2 separate regions of the Homo sapiens genome follow, and region 2 is linked to region 1. Evidence: fine-mapped expression QTL. A gene starts in region 1. The other region holds a variant in brackets. All regions are shown on one strand. Distances are between the middles of the regions.

Region 1 (8,343 bases):
TTTACAGTATCTATGGGTTTTTGTTTAAGAAGGTTCCTCCAACAAAGAATCAAGGATGTTTTATGAATATGTGAGCTCATGAGGATTAGCACCTAGGCAGAGGTATCTATGTTACGATGGAAACTTCACTCTGAGATTCTGGGGCCAGGCCTCACTCAGAGAGGAATCAAGGAACACAAGTCCAGGATATTGATGAAAAGTCTCTGTCAAGAGGAATAATTTTTTTCTTTTTTAAGACAGGGCCTTGCTCTGTCGCCCAGGCTGGACTGCAGTGGTGCAATCTCGTCTCACTGCAACCTCTGCCTCCTGGGCTCAAGTGATTGTCCTGTCTCAGCCTCCCGAGTAGCCTGGGATTACAGGCACGAGCCTCCAGCCTGGTCTCTAACTCCTGGCCTCAAGTGATTGGTCTGCCTTGGCTTCCCAAAGTGCTGAGATTACAGGTGTAAGCTACTGTGCCCAGTCAAGAGGAATAACTTTTACATGGACCTCGTCAAGGGTTTATACATTGCAAAGAAGAAAAATGAGAGTTGAATTAATTTGAGTTAACTCTCAAAACAAAAAAGTCAACTCTAGAAGTTCCTAGTTCCAGCACAGTTCCCAGGAGAATATATGTTCTCACATGCTCTAGGGGATGCAGAAGCCACAAAGATTTCTAGTAAAAGAGATCCCTGATTAAGGTAGCAACTATTTACACAGCATTTGAGATCCACAAAGTATAACAGCTACTTTCATTAAGGAGACAAAAACAATGCCATAATTTATTTTAAGGGGCCATGGGTCTACTTTGAGTGTGCATATATTATTCACAGTTACCAATCAACTGGCAAAAAGTGCGGCTATACTTGTGGCTTTAAGAAAATAACAATGGATCACACTGAAATTGGAGAGCAAACCTGAAAGATACAGACATACACTCGCTTTTTTGTCTCTCACACAGCACAATAGCCAAAATGGATGGGTCCTAGTTTTAGAGTCTTTGGAGAGATCTCATTTGAATCCTACCTCTGCCATTTATTAAATGATGTTGAGTATGTCATTTAACTCATTTAATTATTTGGAAAATATGGATAATAATGTCTACTTCATAGGATTAATATAAGAATTAAAATGAGATAAGAGAAGAGCTTGGTATTCAATATATGAAAATTAACCAGTGTAATTGTTTCATAGTACGGAAGAGAGAGGTTAAAACTCCTGGCCTGGAGTCAGGCCTTGATTCAAATGCTGCCTTGCTCAACTTAGTAGCTGAGCAAAAGTTACTTGACACCTTTGTGTCTTAGTTTCCTCATCTGTAAAACAGGATTACAAACAATATCTGCCTCATAAGATTTTTGTGATGTTTAAATAAGTTAACACCTGTGAAAGTATTTTAAAATGCAATGCCTGGTAAAGTGCTCAATATATTTTAGCTACTGTTATCAATCTTTGTTTCAAGTGTAGGGAGAATAAAGTAATGAAGGAATATATTTGTTTGAAACAGATTTTGAAACAGATGCATGTGACCTTTTCATTTGATGCTACGTTAAACAACAAAGAAACTGGAGAAAACGGTAACAGGATGAAGCCGGTGCACACTGTCTGTACTAAGAGGGGTACCTAGATTTCAGATTTGGCATGCATTTTACAAGACTGGTCTACATCGCTGTTTTTATGGACAGAGCAGCACCCAGGCTGGATCCTTGACTCAGCACTGTCATCAAAGGCAAGGCTCATTTATTAAACGTAGACTCGGGAAGGAGTATTTTTGGAAGCAGAGGGATTGGGAAGAAAGACCCTAGAGCCTTCTCTGAGATATAAAACATGGTGACTGAAATGCCAAGTGACTTCTTACTCTCTTCGAAGTTAGTCAGAAACTGAAGACCATGGACCACTACTTTAAGAACTCTGCCCCTTTTCCTGCGGGTCGAGTTTATTTTCTCTGCTCATATCCCTACTGGTGATTTACCTAAAGCTTTAACAGTAAAACAATCATGCATGTTTTCAATAGCAAAGAGGGAGGAAAGGCTGGGGGTGGGGAAGGACTGCAAGCCAGCCCCTCCTCCTCCAGGGGACTGTGCACCAGCGGCTGCAGCATCTCAGAGGTCCAAAGAAGGAGGAAGCAAGTGCATTTGTATCTGAGGCCTGAGACAAGGAAGACAAAGTAAAATGCTGAGATGCTGTGGGCCAGAAACAGGGCTAAGAGCTTGACAGGCTGGAAAAGCCTGCATTCGACCCCCAACTGTATTCTAAAAACTTCCCAAGGATGGTGCTAGAGGTTTTAAGAGGAATGGGTCTTGGAGCACTGGATCCTCAGACCTAAACAAATATTCGAGAGTTAGTTCTTATGAAGAGAACATGTGGTAACTCAGTGGCAGGTGTTTCAGATTTTATTTTATTGAGAAATATGATCAAAAGAGCTGAGTTAGGACCCCTTTTTCCACACCAAACCTTTTTGAACAAACTTGGCATTTTAAATAATTAGAGGTAGTATTACATTCTCACCAGTACCCTCAGCTTGCAAATTGCACTGAATATTCCCTTTTCAAATTTACTAACACTGATCAACGTATATCTCTATAATTTCCACAATTAAAGTATGTACACAGACTGGTTACCCATGTCTGTGTTAACATCAGGCGTTGGGTTGTCACCTGCAGTTGCCTATGCCTTACTGTTAGCTATACTTTTTGCTAATCTGGAATATTTGGAAGCAATTCTTCACAACTCTGAACTACAATAAGTCTACAATGCCCACTTGAAAGGCATTCCAAGCAAGAAAATGGCTGGCTACTTGTTCCTGCCCCTTACCTAGGATTAGTAGAGGCCAGAATAGCGAATATATTCCATCTTCTGCATGTTGTTGAGTCTCTGATCTCCTATGTAATTTCCTGTCCTGATCCTGGGCTTCTGTTTAATCTTATTAGCCAAGGTACAAGTCATGAGACTCCCGCACACTCAGTTCCCATCAGCGCTGCCAGGATCACTGCCCTTATGATGACGACGCACGGATTTATAAGGCCAGAGCGATTCCGAATGGGAGCGGGGGAAGGAGAGCCAGGCGGCCGTGAAGGTGTTTACCAAAACAACATCCCCCAGCCACACTTTTTCGCAGCAGAGAGAAACTGGCATCTTCTCGCTTTGAAGTGTTTAATTAATGCCCTGCTGGAAGTGAATTCGCTCCCTCCGACTTGCAGGGTAGTGACAGCATCTAAGAGCTTTGCAGACAGCTCGAAATGTAATCAAACAGCATCCTTTCCCCTCCCTCTGCAGCTTTCCCCCTCCTCCAGGGGCAGTCAGCCGGTGGCCCAGAGGGGTGCAGATTTCAGCGCCGCTCGCCCACTGCTCCCCCGGGGAAGACCGAGGCGGGGCGCACTGGGACGCCCTTCCCAGCCCACAAGGTGGGCGACCAGGTGGTGACACCACGACCCTTCCTTCTCTGCCCTAGTCTCTCGGCTCTGCCGAGAGGGGGGTGTCACTGGGGGGCTTTGGCCGCCTTCGGGCTCAGCGGAGCACGCAGGAGCCTGGGCAGGGGGCCAGGACAAGGGTCCGGCTGCGGCTGCAGGGGCCTCGGCTCCAGCCTGGTTCCCAGCGCAGACGACACCGGGGTGGGGAGGGTTGGGGAGAGGTGCGGAGGCGGCCGTCCGGGGAGCGGCGACATCCCGCTCCAGTTTACCTGGACGCGCTCGGCAGCGGCGGAACTGGGCTCCCCGAGCCGGCGGCGGCTCCTGGGCGGCGGCAGCGTTGGTGCAGGCGGCTCCCGAAGGTGGCGGGGCCGGCGCGGGCAGGATGTGCTGTCTCACGCTGCGCCGGCCGCTCGGCTCGCGCTCCTCCGGGAGCGATCACTTCCTCTCTCCCAGAGCCTGACACTGACAGCTCCCCGGAGCACTCAGTCTGCGGGGCTCGCCCCGCCCCCTGCCCACGCCCTCCACGCCCGCGCCCCTCCTGAGGGAGGGCCTCCGCTCCGCGTCTTCCGCGCCCGGTCTCGCCAGGAGGGGGTGGCGCCGCTCCGTAGGCTGGTGGCGAGCAGAGGACCTGGAAAGGTCAATTCGTCTATCCCTCTAACGTCGGTAGGACTTAGACCTCAGTTGCTGCAAAGAGAAGAGCTTCAATATTCTGGGAGCTCCTGCTGAAATGCCACCATTGAACAACTTTCACTCCCAGGCAACTACACTTCTTAAGGTCATTTAAATAGAAATAAAGCTCAGATCTACCTGTTGTACACAATGACTTATAGGTCTGATTGATCCCAATTTTTCTAGAAGAAAAAAGAATTAAGTGTGTGTGTCTGTGTGTGTGTGTGTGTGTGTGTGTGTGTGTGTGGTGTGGTGTGTGTGTAGCTTGTCTTCACATTGCTTCTTAAAGTCCCAGCTTTTAAAAATCTGGGTAACTGGCCAGACGCGGTGGCTCACGCCTGTAATCCAAGCACTTTGGGAGGCCGAGGAGGGCGGATCACCTGAGGTCGAGAGTTGGGGGACCAGCCTGACCAACATGAAAAAACCCCGTCTCTACTAAAAATACAAAATTAGCCGGGCGTGGTGGTGCATGCCAGTAATCCCAGCTACTCGGGAGGCTAAGGCAGGAGAATGGTTGAACCCGGGAGGCGGAGGTTGTGGTGAACCGAGATCCCGCCACTGCACTCAAAGCCTGGGCAACAAGAGCGAAACTCCGTCTCGGGGAAACAAAAAAAAATCTGGGTAACTATTATTGGACTCTGCAAAAAACAAGCTTGCCACAACAGCTAAGTTATAAGGCCAAAAAATTGAGTTTGGGATGTTAGGGGGTTTGGTATCATTTTATAGATGAGCTTTTCATCATATTTCTTGCACATCTGTGGTGTATTTTTACACATTAGAATGTAAATTAGTGGAGGGCAGGGACGCTATCTTGTTCACTGCTGTATTCTTAGTATCTAGAACAGCATTCTGATATATAATGGGTACTCAGTAAATATTTATGAACTTATTAATTCACAAGTACTACAGTAATTTCAAAATAAATACAGATTCTAGTATGAATACAGTATGAATACATACTCATCTGTAAATGGCCATCCTTATTCTAAAACTTTGGCCTCCCTGGCTAATCTACTGCGATTGTAACTATGGCTAGAAATGAAGAGGTTAAATGTCTAGGTAGAAGGTATTCAAGGTATTCCAGAAGGAAAAATCTAGGAAATAAATATTTGCCACTACCGTGACTGAATATTTAATACATGTCAATTCTACATACATTTTTCTTTAACTTTTCTATAACATTATGTAGTACATATAACGAATGCCATGCCTCCAGAAAAGGAACTTGAGTCAAAGAAGTTAACTCCCTTGCCCAAGTTCCATAACCACTGAGTGATCTAGCTGAGATTTGAATTCCCATTCATCTGCAGCTTGTACTTTAACTACTTTGTATTTTGGTCTTTCCAACATGGCATTGCTTTTGTTGTTGTTGTTGTTTTGTTTGTTTGTTTGTTTGTTTTTTGAGACAGAGTCTCCCTCTGATGCCCAGGCTGGAATGCAGTGGCACAATCTCGGCTCACTGAAACCTCCATCTCCTGGGTTCAAGCGATTCTCCTTCCTCAGCTTCCTGAGTAGCTAAGATTACAGGTGCACACCACCTAGCCCGGCTAATTTTTGTATTTTTAGTAGAGATGGCATTTCTCCATGTTGGCCAGGCTGGTCTCGAACTCCTGACCTCAAGTGATCTGCCTGCCTCAGCCTCCCAAAGTGCTGGGATTACAGGTGTGAGCCACCATGCCTGGCCTCAACATGGCATTGTTGAGTGCCCACGAAGTAGGAGCTGGGACTTAGACACTGGACCAAATTGAAGACTAGCTAAAACAGGGATGGGGCGGAGGCAGCTTTCCATAAGAGATGCTCACCAGTGTGCCATGTCAATTTACCACTGCCGTGGCAAAACCCAGGAGTTACCACTCCCTTCCATGGCAATGACCCCATGACCCAGAAGTTACTACCCTTTCCCTAAAAATTCTGCATAAACTACCCCTTGATCTACAAGTAATTAAAGTAGGTACAAATATGACTGCAAAACTACCCTGAGCTGTTACTTTCTGCCTGTGGGGTAGCCTTGCTCTGCAGGAACAGTCACAGAGCTGTAACACCATCAGAGCTGTAACACTGCCACTTCAACAAAGCTGTACTTTTCAACCCTACCACTGGCTCACCCTTAAATTCTTTCCTGGGCAAAGCCAAGAACCTTTGCGAGCTAAGCTCCAATTAATTTGGGGGCTCCCCTGTACTGCATCGCACACAACCTGCAAAGCATTGTGCTTGGAGCTTCACATGATTTAAAAAAGAGAATATAATCCCTCTTCTTGAAGGGGTTAAAATCCAGTTGGAGGTGCAAGGATAGGTAAAGGCAACATAATTAAGGACAAACAATAAGGAAATACCCAAAGCAGTACAATGGTTTGGGTGGATGAGATGGAAGGAGGAAATTAGAATTATGACAATAGATAGTATTGAAATAGGTAGGGTTTTAGAGCAGAAATGAAGAGCAGAGAACATTTTCAGGCGTAAACAAAGCTCCAAAGAAGAGAAAGAACAAAGTGTACTCAGCAAATAGTGAGTGGGCCAGCTTTTTGGATCATGACAGACTCATGGGAGAGCCAACTGGGGCCTTGAGAAGGGCTGTAGAGCAGATAATGGAGAATCATTAAAGGCCTTTGAGTAGAGAATGACACTTGGGAAGAGTCATCTGGGGCTATCTTCGGGTAGAGGATTGAACAAGCAAAAGCTTAAGAGACAAGTTTAAAGTTCATTCAAAGAATCCAGGTCAGGATTTAAAAGGCCTGAGTTTGCCAAGTTGTATTCATGACAAATAGCCTGTAATGTATGCCCACAGCAAATTAAGCCCTCAATTTCAAAGTTAGTTATAATATTATCACTTCTCAGTATTTAACCAAAATAATTCAAAGTAGGATTTCAGAGAGATATTTGCACATTCATGTTCAATGCAACATTATTCACAATAGCCAAGAGGTGGAAGCAACCCAAATGTTCATGAACAGATGAATAAGTAAAGAAAATTTGGAATATATATGCATACAGTAAAATTTTATATTTAAAAAGGAAGAAAATCCTGTCACATGCTACAGTGTGGATGAACTTGAAGGACACTGTCGTAAGTGAAATAAGTCAGTTACAAAAAGTAAAATAGTGTATGATTCCACTCATATGAAGTATCTAAAGTAGTCAAAATTGTAGAAAAAGAAAATGCAGGCATACTACGGAGATATTGTGAGCTCAGTTTCACATCACCAAATATCACAATAAAAGTGAGTCATACACATTTTTTTGTTTCCTAGTGTATATAATAGTTATGTTTACACTATACTGTGGCCTATTAAGTGTGCAATAGCATTATGTCTAAAACATATACATGTCTTAATTTAAAAATACTTTATTGCTAACAAATGCTAATAATCATTTGAGCCATCAGTGAGTTGTAATCTTTTTGCTGGTGGAGAGTCTTGCCTCAATGTTGATGGCTGTTGACTGATCAGGGTGGTTGTTGCTGAAGGTGGGGTAGCTGTGGTAATGTCTTAAAATAAGACAACAATGATGTTTGCCTCATCCATTGATTCTTCTTTTCATGAAAGATTTCTCTGTAGCATGTCATGCTCTTTGATAGCATTTAAACAAATTTATGGGCACATAGAAGGTATTTAGTATTTATGAGGTACAGGAGACATTTTGATACAGGCATGCAGTGTGTGTTTGGTAGCCCTTTATCCACAGAACCTTCAAAACTGAAGTGAACTATGTCAAACCCTGCCACTGCTTTATCAAATACGTTTATGTAATATTCGAAATCCTTTGTCATCATTTCAACAATGTTCATAGCATTTTCACCAGCAGTAGTTCCCATCTCAGTATATCACTTTCTTTGCTCTTCCATAAGAAGCAACTTCTCATTCATTGAAGTTTTATTATGAGATTGCAGCAATTCAGTCACATCTTCAGACTCTACTTCTAATTCTAGTTCTCCTGCTATTTTTATTACATCTTCAGTGATTTCCTTCACTTAAGTTTTGAGCCCCTCAAAGTCATCCATGAGGGTTTGTATTAGTCCATTTGCATTGATATAAAGGAACCCCAGAGGCTGGGTAATTTATAAAGAAAAGAAGTTTACTGTGGCTCATGGTTCTGCAGGCTGTACAAGAAGCATGGTACTGGCATCTGCTTCTGGTGAGGGCCTCAACAACCTTACAATTATGGCAGAAAGCAAAGGGGGAGCTGATGCATCACATGAATAGAGTGGGAGCAAGAGAGAGAAGGAAAGTGCCACAGTCTTTTAAACAACCAGATCTCCTGTGAATTCAGAGTGAGAACTCACTCATTACCATGG
Region 2 (8,343 bases), 160 kb before region 1:
TTCTTTATCACTGTTCCAAGACCACCAGGCAATTATTGCTAGCACTTACATAAATACAATTATCAGTGGCAAACTTTCTTCTATACTACTGTATAGAATGTGAACCGTGATTGTTCTCTAGGCTAATCTTTCATTGGCACCAATGGGTGATCCCAGACTGAATTTATGAATTAATAATAGGGAGCTCTAAGTGTCGGGTTTCATTTTATGTTACATCTTTTACCACCACTAGGCTCAAAATAAATCCTGCTAAGAATAGCCAAGGAGAAAAGGCTGTGGGTGGCATAACAAGGGCGACTGAAAGGCGGGTGTCTCAAAGGCAGGTGTCTCATTCACTTTAAGTGTTTACATAATTTTATGTGAAGTTTTTTTTAAAAAAAATGTGTCACTGCCTTCAGTGCAGTGTCATGTCACCTCTGCAAGGGTTTGGATTCAAATGGTGTGTCTATCATGAACAGAAATGCCAACATGTTTAAAAGCCATTTCTTCATGAAAATATAGGTTTTGCCAAAACCCACATTTGGTGCCATTTCTAAGCTACCAAAAATGTCAATTCACGTGAGCATCAATTATTACTCTTGCTTTACAAGAAACAAAATTATTTCCTTACAATTCTAGAAATTGTTAAGTTTCTGTATCTGATTAACCCTTTTGAGACACATCAATGGCTAAAATGGCTTCATCTGAGGCTGCTTCCTTTCTAATGATACTTTAATACACATGAACAAACAGACTGGCATTGTTAGGAATGAGAATCTCAAACCGGCTGTGGATTCATTTGGACTCTTCTTTGCTGTGGTTGCTGAGACAATGACAGCTGATATTTTATCACAAATGAAGCTACTCTAATATGAATTTTCATATTTAGAGATTATGTTTTTAAAAAGTATAAATAAAGATTCTCTGTGCTGGCTGCTGTGGCTCACATCTGTAATCCCAGCACTTCGGGAGGCCAAGGTGGGAGGATTGCTTGAGGACAGGATTTTGAGACCAGCCTGGGCAACATGGTGAGACCCCCATCTCTACTAAAACATTTAAAAATTAGCCAAGTGTGATGACACAAGCCTGCAGGCCCAGACACTCAGGAAGCTGAGGCAGGAGGATCACTTGAGCCCAGGAATTCAAGGCTGAAATGAGCTATGATTGTGCCACTGTACTCAAGTCTGGGCAATAGAGTGAGACATTGTCATCTCAAAAAAAAAAAAAAAATTAAAAAATAAATAAAGATAGTCTGACAAACTAGAAAACTTTAAAATGATGTGCTACTGTAAGTCTTATGCCTTCTGAGTTGTAAAAATCAGGTATTTCAACTTTTAGCCCCTGGTTCTAGTGTCAGTGGACAAGCTAAGCCATGATCGAAACCTACTACTATGATCTTGAACAAATCACTTAACATTTGTGAGGCTTGGTGTCCTCATCTAAAAATGGAAAGGGTTCAACTTGATAATTGTGGAAGTTCCTAGAAGCTTGACATATTCAATGGTTTCATGTTTCTAATATATGCAGTGTGATCTTGACATTTTCTCAGGCGGGGTCAAGCTGACAAATACCCTACCCAAGGACACTTCTAATTCCTTCATATGTCCTTTAGGTAGACAGATTTTTCCATTCTGCTCAGGCCTTTCCCTAGAGTAGTCCCTGCCCAGCAATTAGAAGCATAAAATGTCCATTCTGAATAATGCCCACTGTCATGTTTGAAGTCCCTGACCAAGTTAATTAACCCCTTTTTTCTTTATAGTAGCCATGATTATCACATTAATTTCTCTGTTGTGAAAATGTGCCGCCATAGTGTGTATGTGATTTTCCAGTACTGGTAGGAGAAATAGAGACTTTTGCCAGTTTTTATTGCTGCATTCCTTTCAACAGTAAAAGCTGAATATAAGCTACATAGTCACCCATAGGAGATGATAAAATAAGTTTAACTTTATCCTGCTATGGACAATATGTGACAGCTAAACAGAATGAGGTAGAGAGCAACATATTTTGACATGAACAGCAAATCTTGAAGGTATTCTGTTAAATGGAAAAATAGGTATTGAGCAATATGTACTATATAATACCATTTATGTAAAAATAGACACAATTATACATATATAAATAGTAAATATAAAATTGCATATTGTGAAATCCTTTAAAACCTTTCAGACATGTTGGAAATTAAGACGCTGGCAGCAAGTTAGACTGACAAGTCATTATGATTAACGCCACCACAATCAATAGTAAAATAACATTTAGCTGTATATTAATTTAAATATAAAAAATGCAAACGAAAATGATCTAGAACAGAGATCAACAAAATTTTTCTGTAAAGCGCTAGTCAGTAAACATTTCAGGCTTTGGGGGCCATGTGGTCTGTATTGCGGCTACACAGCTGAGCTGTTGCAGTGTGACAGCAGCCAGGGACAATATGTAAATAAATGGGCGTGGCTGTGTTTCAACAAAACTTTATTTACAAAAACAGGTAGGGAGCTGGATTGGCCTTTGGGTTAGAACTTGCTGACCTCTGAACTAGAACAATACAAACTAGTCTGATGAAAGGAATATCTATGTGGAACAAACTAGAACTGATGAAAATAAGTCAAGTGGAATTTTCTCTTTATCAGTATTATTAGATTCTTTTAAGTTAAAAATGTAGTCATAGGCCGGGCGCAGTGGCTCACGCCTGTAATCCCAGCACTTTGAGAGGCCGAGTGGGTGGATCACTTGAGGCCAGGAGTTTGAGACCAGCCTGGCCAACATGGCGAAACCCCATCTCTACAAAAAATGCAAAAGTTAGCTGGGTGTGGTGGTGCAAACCTGTAATTCCAGCTACTCAGGCGGCTGAGACACCAGAATTGCTTGAACTGGGAGGTGGAATGGAAGTTGCAGTGAGCCGAGATTGCGCCACTGCACTCCAGCCTGGGCTACAAAGTGAGACTCTGTCTCCAAAAAAAAAAAAAGTATTCATGAGTTACTTCTATACTTAAAAACATATTTAAAAGATTAAACTGATAATAAAAGAATAATTAGAAAATATTTCACCTGACATTTAATGCAGCAATACTCTGAATTAACCAGTTTTTCTACGATCTTCCCAATAAGCATCACATGAAGCAATCTTCCTTCCAGGAAAATGCCAGGGCTTTGTTCTCCAATTAGCTGTCCTGTGAACACTGAAATACTGTAGCCTAGAACCTACAGAGCTAACAGACAAGAAACAATGGGGGCAGAATCCCACTCTGAAAAGCTTATGGAGCAACCAACCTCTCCAGTAAATGAGGACAAGCTACCCTGTTATGTTTCCTTTTTAAATATTTTTTTTACATCAAAAACACATTGCAAGGTAGTGAGGACTTTACGGACATCCTACCAAAACAGGCTGAATAATTCTGATATTGAAAACCAGCCTAGTTTTAATTAACTGCCAGGACTCAGCCACATCCTCAAGCTCCAGATAGCCAATAACAATCTTGTAATTTCTAAATGTGAATGCCACTCAGGTGGAGACCAAATAGTGAGGTTTCAGCTTACCTCTTAAATTGTAAACATAAAATTTCAGATATCCATAGCAACCAGACCTCCCTCCACCTTAGACACTTTCCTCAAGAAAAGGGAGGAAAAAGCATTTCTGCGGTGGACAGTACATAGACAGTTGCCCATTAAAATGGTAACATTGAAATATAAATAGCCCAACCTTTTCATCATTTATTGACAAATGACTTACCAAACTGCTAGTGAAATCCTTTAAAAACCTCTCAGATATGCTGGAAATTAAGACACCAGCAACAAGTTAGATTGACAAGTAATTACAATTAATGCCACCCCAATCATTAGTAAAACACATTTAGCTATATATTTGTAGGCCAATATTTAATAGCAAAACAGAATTCTAAGAACACCACTGTGCCCAAAAGCTCTCTGATCTTTACCAATTTAGCAACCAGCCAGGCTAGAATAGAATAAATATCACATGGTCTGGGAAAATGGGCTGTCCTGATTCTGAAAGATTGTGCTGGCTCTTGATATGGGGAGCCATCTGTCAATGCTCTTTGAAAAAGTGAGAAATCAGGGCTACTTCTCTAGCATTCGTGAATCTAACCTTCTGTGCTGTCACCCTTTCCTTGGGAAATATTTCTTAAGAGCCAGATGTTAGTATTCATTTCAGTTCACAAAACAGTTACTTCCCAAGGTCTATCAGCAGCAGAATGGATAAATAAATAATGGCATAGTCACACAGTGAAATACTACATAGTCATGGTAGTGAATGAACCACATCTACATACAACAGCATGAATGCTTCTGAAACATAATGTGAAATGAAAGATGTTAGCCATGAATGCATATGTACCATATGATGACATTTGTAGAAAATTTAATAAGGGGCATAACTAATCTATGATGTAGTGGTTACCCTTGGGGGAGGAGAGACTGAATATGGACTTCTGGGTTTCTCCTTATATTCTGAATCTTGATCTGAAGACTGGTTTCATGGTATGTTCATGTCAAAAATATCAAGTTGTACACTCCTGATTTGAGTACTTTCCTGCATGCTTTTACGCTTTCAAAAAATTTACAAGCAACAACAAACAACCCCAGCACAATTGTTAATGAGCAGCATACTTTCCAGGCTCTATGAAGGAACTAGGAAAAATATGACAAGCTTTAGCCTCCAGAAACTTATATTCAAGTAGGAGAGATGAGTATAAAAAGCAAAACCATATCATTTTATGTAATAAGGTTACATAAAACATAAAAAGTATTACATATTACAGTGTTAGGTAAAGGGAGTTCCAGGAGCAATTTCTTCTGCTCTCATTGTGAGCAAAGATCACAGTAGGTGACACTCAGCCAGCCTTTGAGGACTGAGTTCAATAAATACAGGGTGAAGGAAAGGGATATTCTAGGCATGGGCACCCTGGGAGGTTAGGGCATTGCAGGATGGAAGAGCAGAAAATACTAGTGATAGAATATGAAAATCATCCACATTGTGTGGGCCTGGACAATTAAAACATGCTCATCTTTATGCAT[T/C]TGTTGAGTACATCACAGTTTTCCAAAGGACACTTTACTCGTACCCAGTTGCAGGACTCTTATCTTCAAACGAGGAGTATCTTGAACACTGTTGTATCAACTGTGTAATACCGGTAAGTTTGGGGACGGAAGGGAGGGAGAAAGGAAAGAAGCCAGGCTCACATAGTAATACTCTTAACAAGCACAAGAAAACAGCAAGAACCACCACTTATGCTTCATAATTTATATGCATTGTCTGTTGCATTTCATCCTCACAACTCTAGGAGCTGGAGACTATTATTATCTCCATTTGGTGGATGCCAAAACTGAGGCTTAGTGAAGCTCACTAACTGCCCATGGCCGTATTAGCCAGTTGAAATCATTTCCCAGTAAAAAGTCTTTTAAAAGCCAGCTCTCAGGTAAAAGGCAACAGAGAACAGCCACTGCTGGAACCTGGCGGCACTAACACTGAAGCCCAGGTGACAAACACTGCACGTGGTGAACATTAAGTGCGCCCTTGGAATCTGGGGAGTGGGGTGGGGCACTGATACTCCCCCTGCAGCCTGTGTGGCAGTGGGAGCCCGTGCAGAGAACAGGCTCTAGCCAGTTCCCAAGCCCACTACAGTCTGGGCTTCTTCAGCCACTCAGCTCCTTGCACTAACAGGGGGCTGATTTCCTCTTCAGGCACATTGTCACTTGGGGTCTTTAAAACTTACAGCACTCTGGAAAATGTGTTTTTTGAATAGAGGTGTCTTTAAAAGGCACAGGAAATAAAGTAACTTAGGTCTGAACCATATTGAGAAAATACCTGGAGGAGGTTATCTGGACACCAGAAATGAGGACTTGGCCTCCTTTTGCAGGAACTACAATTTAACAGCAATGTCAGGGAAGTCACAACATTTCTACCAGGAAATATCTACAGAAATGGGTGCTATCCTGAAGGAGGAAGCAAGGCAGTACTAGTTGGGAGGCAGGAAGCTTTGTTTTGTAAGTCTGACTCTCCATTTTATTTGCCCTGGCTGTTCTTCCATAATGTAGGGTCTGATAGCAAACTGCTGAAACCAGGCCAAGTGTGGCTGGCAGGGCGCAGGCTTCCACGCCACACCACAACACAGCCCTCCTGCTATTTCAGGCCTTGGGTTCTGTGAAACAGACGCTGCTACCCTCCATCCTGGGTTGTGTGAAATTATGCGGTGGTTTGGTGAAGTCAACAAATAACTAGCGTGAACCACATTTTGGGGGAAATAAAAAAGCAGCTGGCATCAGTTCTGGTCTTCAGAAGGCAGTGAATAAGGACAGCTATCCTCTGTTGCCTCTTATCTGAGAGCTGGATTTTAAAAGACTTTTTACTGGGAAATGATTTCAAACTAACGGTTAGATTGCAAAAATAAAAATAGTATGAAGAGTGTCTGTATGCCCTTTACCCCCACACTCAACTATTGTTAATGTTTCATGTTATCATTTGCTCAGCCATCCTCTCACTCTCTCCCCCATCCCCATACTTCTTCGTGTATCTCCTAATTAAAGGGATACATTCTTCCATAACCCATAGAACAGTTATCAAGCTCAATAAATTTAACATCTATATAGTATTTTTAACTAATCCACTATTCATATTCAATATTCTCAGTTAATCCAATAATGGCCTTAAGTCCTAACACAAATGCCACCTCTACTATCACCCCATCCCTAACACTTCCCTTTCCCTTGTGACGCTCCCGTAGCCCTTAGATTTGCCTGTCTTCTGACTATTGTTATGTTCTGCCTCTCATTGTATGGACGGTCACCTCCCCTACTAGACTGACAACTTTTTGAAGTTCAGGTAAGTATCTGTTGGATGACTTTCCAGGTGCGTATATATAATATATTAGGGCTAGTATAAATGGTTGCAGAGTTCATTAACTTGTATTAGATGCTTTAAGGACTTCCATGATGTCATTTTTAAAAATGAACACTTTTTTTCCCCTCTTTGCTTGGGAAGATTCACATACTGGAATAAAATCATCTGTAAACAGAATTATTAAAAACTACAGCAGTTTTTGCTCATGAGGTCAGTTTGTTAAAATATTTTTACAAAAATTTCATTGTATTGTCATATATTTTGAGTATATAATTTGTTCGAAATTTGGATTACAATTCCAAAGCACCTTAACAAATGAAAAAACTAGTTTGAACACACACTCTGTATCTATCTGCTAAAGATTAAATTAAACACAATATGATATGGGAGGGACGACAAGTGCTGTCCATGTTGAAAAAGAGTCTCAGGAGAGGGCAGGTGGATCATTATGATTATAAAAGAACAAGGTCAACAGTGTAGCTATTAAGACAGTTAATAGACAGGTAGAGGAGGTAGTCTGAATCACAGTGTGGTTCCTTCACATCCCTCACTTGTGTCTTATCCTTACTTTAAGTTTATGTACCTTTTATTCATCTAACCACGTATAGAGAGATGAGGAAAATTTTAATGTCTTTGAAAACAGTTTCGGAAAACTGTCCATGAAGCCAAAGTTACTGTACCTTCTCAAAGGGAAAAAATAAATACATCTAAAAATAAAAAACAAAACCCTTATAATTCTAACATTCAGAAATAACCAACATTAATCATTTTTTGTAACCATTTCAGTCTTTTCTATGCATGTGTATAAAATAGATATCATTTTATCAGTATCAAATCAGATTCACATACATTTTTGTAATGTATTTATTTTGTAACTTTTTTTAACTTAAAATATATTATAAGCTGTCATTTAAAATGGCTAAATAGTACTTCACAGTATAAATGCATCTTAATTTATATAGCTAGTCTACCAGTAATAGTATTTCTAGATTTTTTACTTTGTGATATTATAAAGAATACTGCAATGAGCATTCTTACAGTCTAGTTAAATCTTTCCTGTCATTCTTAATTACTTCCTGCAGGAACAATTCCCAGAAATTGAATTGCTCAGTATGTACATTGTTTGAAATCTTATGATGATCAGTAAAACCAAGCTGCCTTTCAGCAAGATGAAGATGATTTTTAACTCCTGTAGCACTCTCCTCTGGAGCTGCTTAATGCACACCCTTGCCAACCCTGGGCATTATATTTGACAACTAAATATATGCAACAGGGCTCCTTGTTTAAATTTGGATTTCTTTAATTTATGCATCAGGGTAAATATTAAGGAACTTTATTAGAAGTTTGTACTCTCCTTTTATGAGTTTGAGGCTACAGATATTTAAATGATAAAAAGAAAAACTAAAGAAGACAAAATAACGTTTAAAGCATTATTTTAAATCCAGTAAAATGTAATTCAACTCCACATAATAAAACTGGCATAAGAAAGAAACAAGGAAGGTTTGATCCAAGTTTAA

Direction of the effects. Positions count from the first base shown, and alleles are read on the strand shown. Sizes are in standard deviations (SD) of each study's normalised expression.
In carriers of allele C in region 2, the expression in esophagus mucosa of the gene that starts at base 3,872 in region 1 tends to be higher than with T alone (large effect, 0.95 SD a copy in GTEx).

Evidence for each region. PIP is the estimated chance that this variant, and not a neighbour inherited with it, causes the effect.
Region 2: its variant is fine-mapped to the expression of DYNC1I1 in esophagus mucosa (GTEx, PIP above 0.99).

The regions. Positions count from the first base shown.
Region 1 is chr7:95,768,083-95,776,425 of GRCh38, reverse strand. DYNC1I1 (dynein cytoplasmic 1 intermediate chain 1) reads right to left here and starts at 3,872. Exons shown (of 17, transcript NM_001135556.2): 1 at 3,653-3,872.
Region 2 is chr7:95,925,746-95,934,088 of GRCh38, reverse strand. All of the region lies in intron 6 of DYNC1I1 (dynein cytoplasmic 1 intermediate chain 1), which reads right to left. Among named protein-coding and RNA genes, the nearest start is that of DYNC1I1, 160 kb to the right of the region's middle. The variant T/C (reference allele first, on the strand shown) is at 5,008.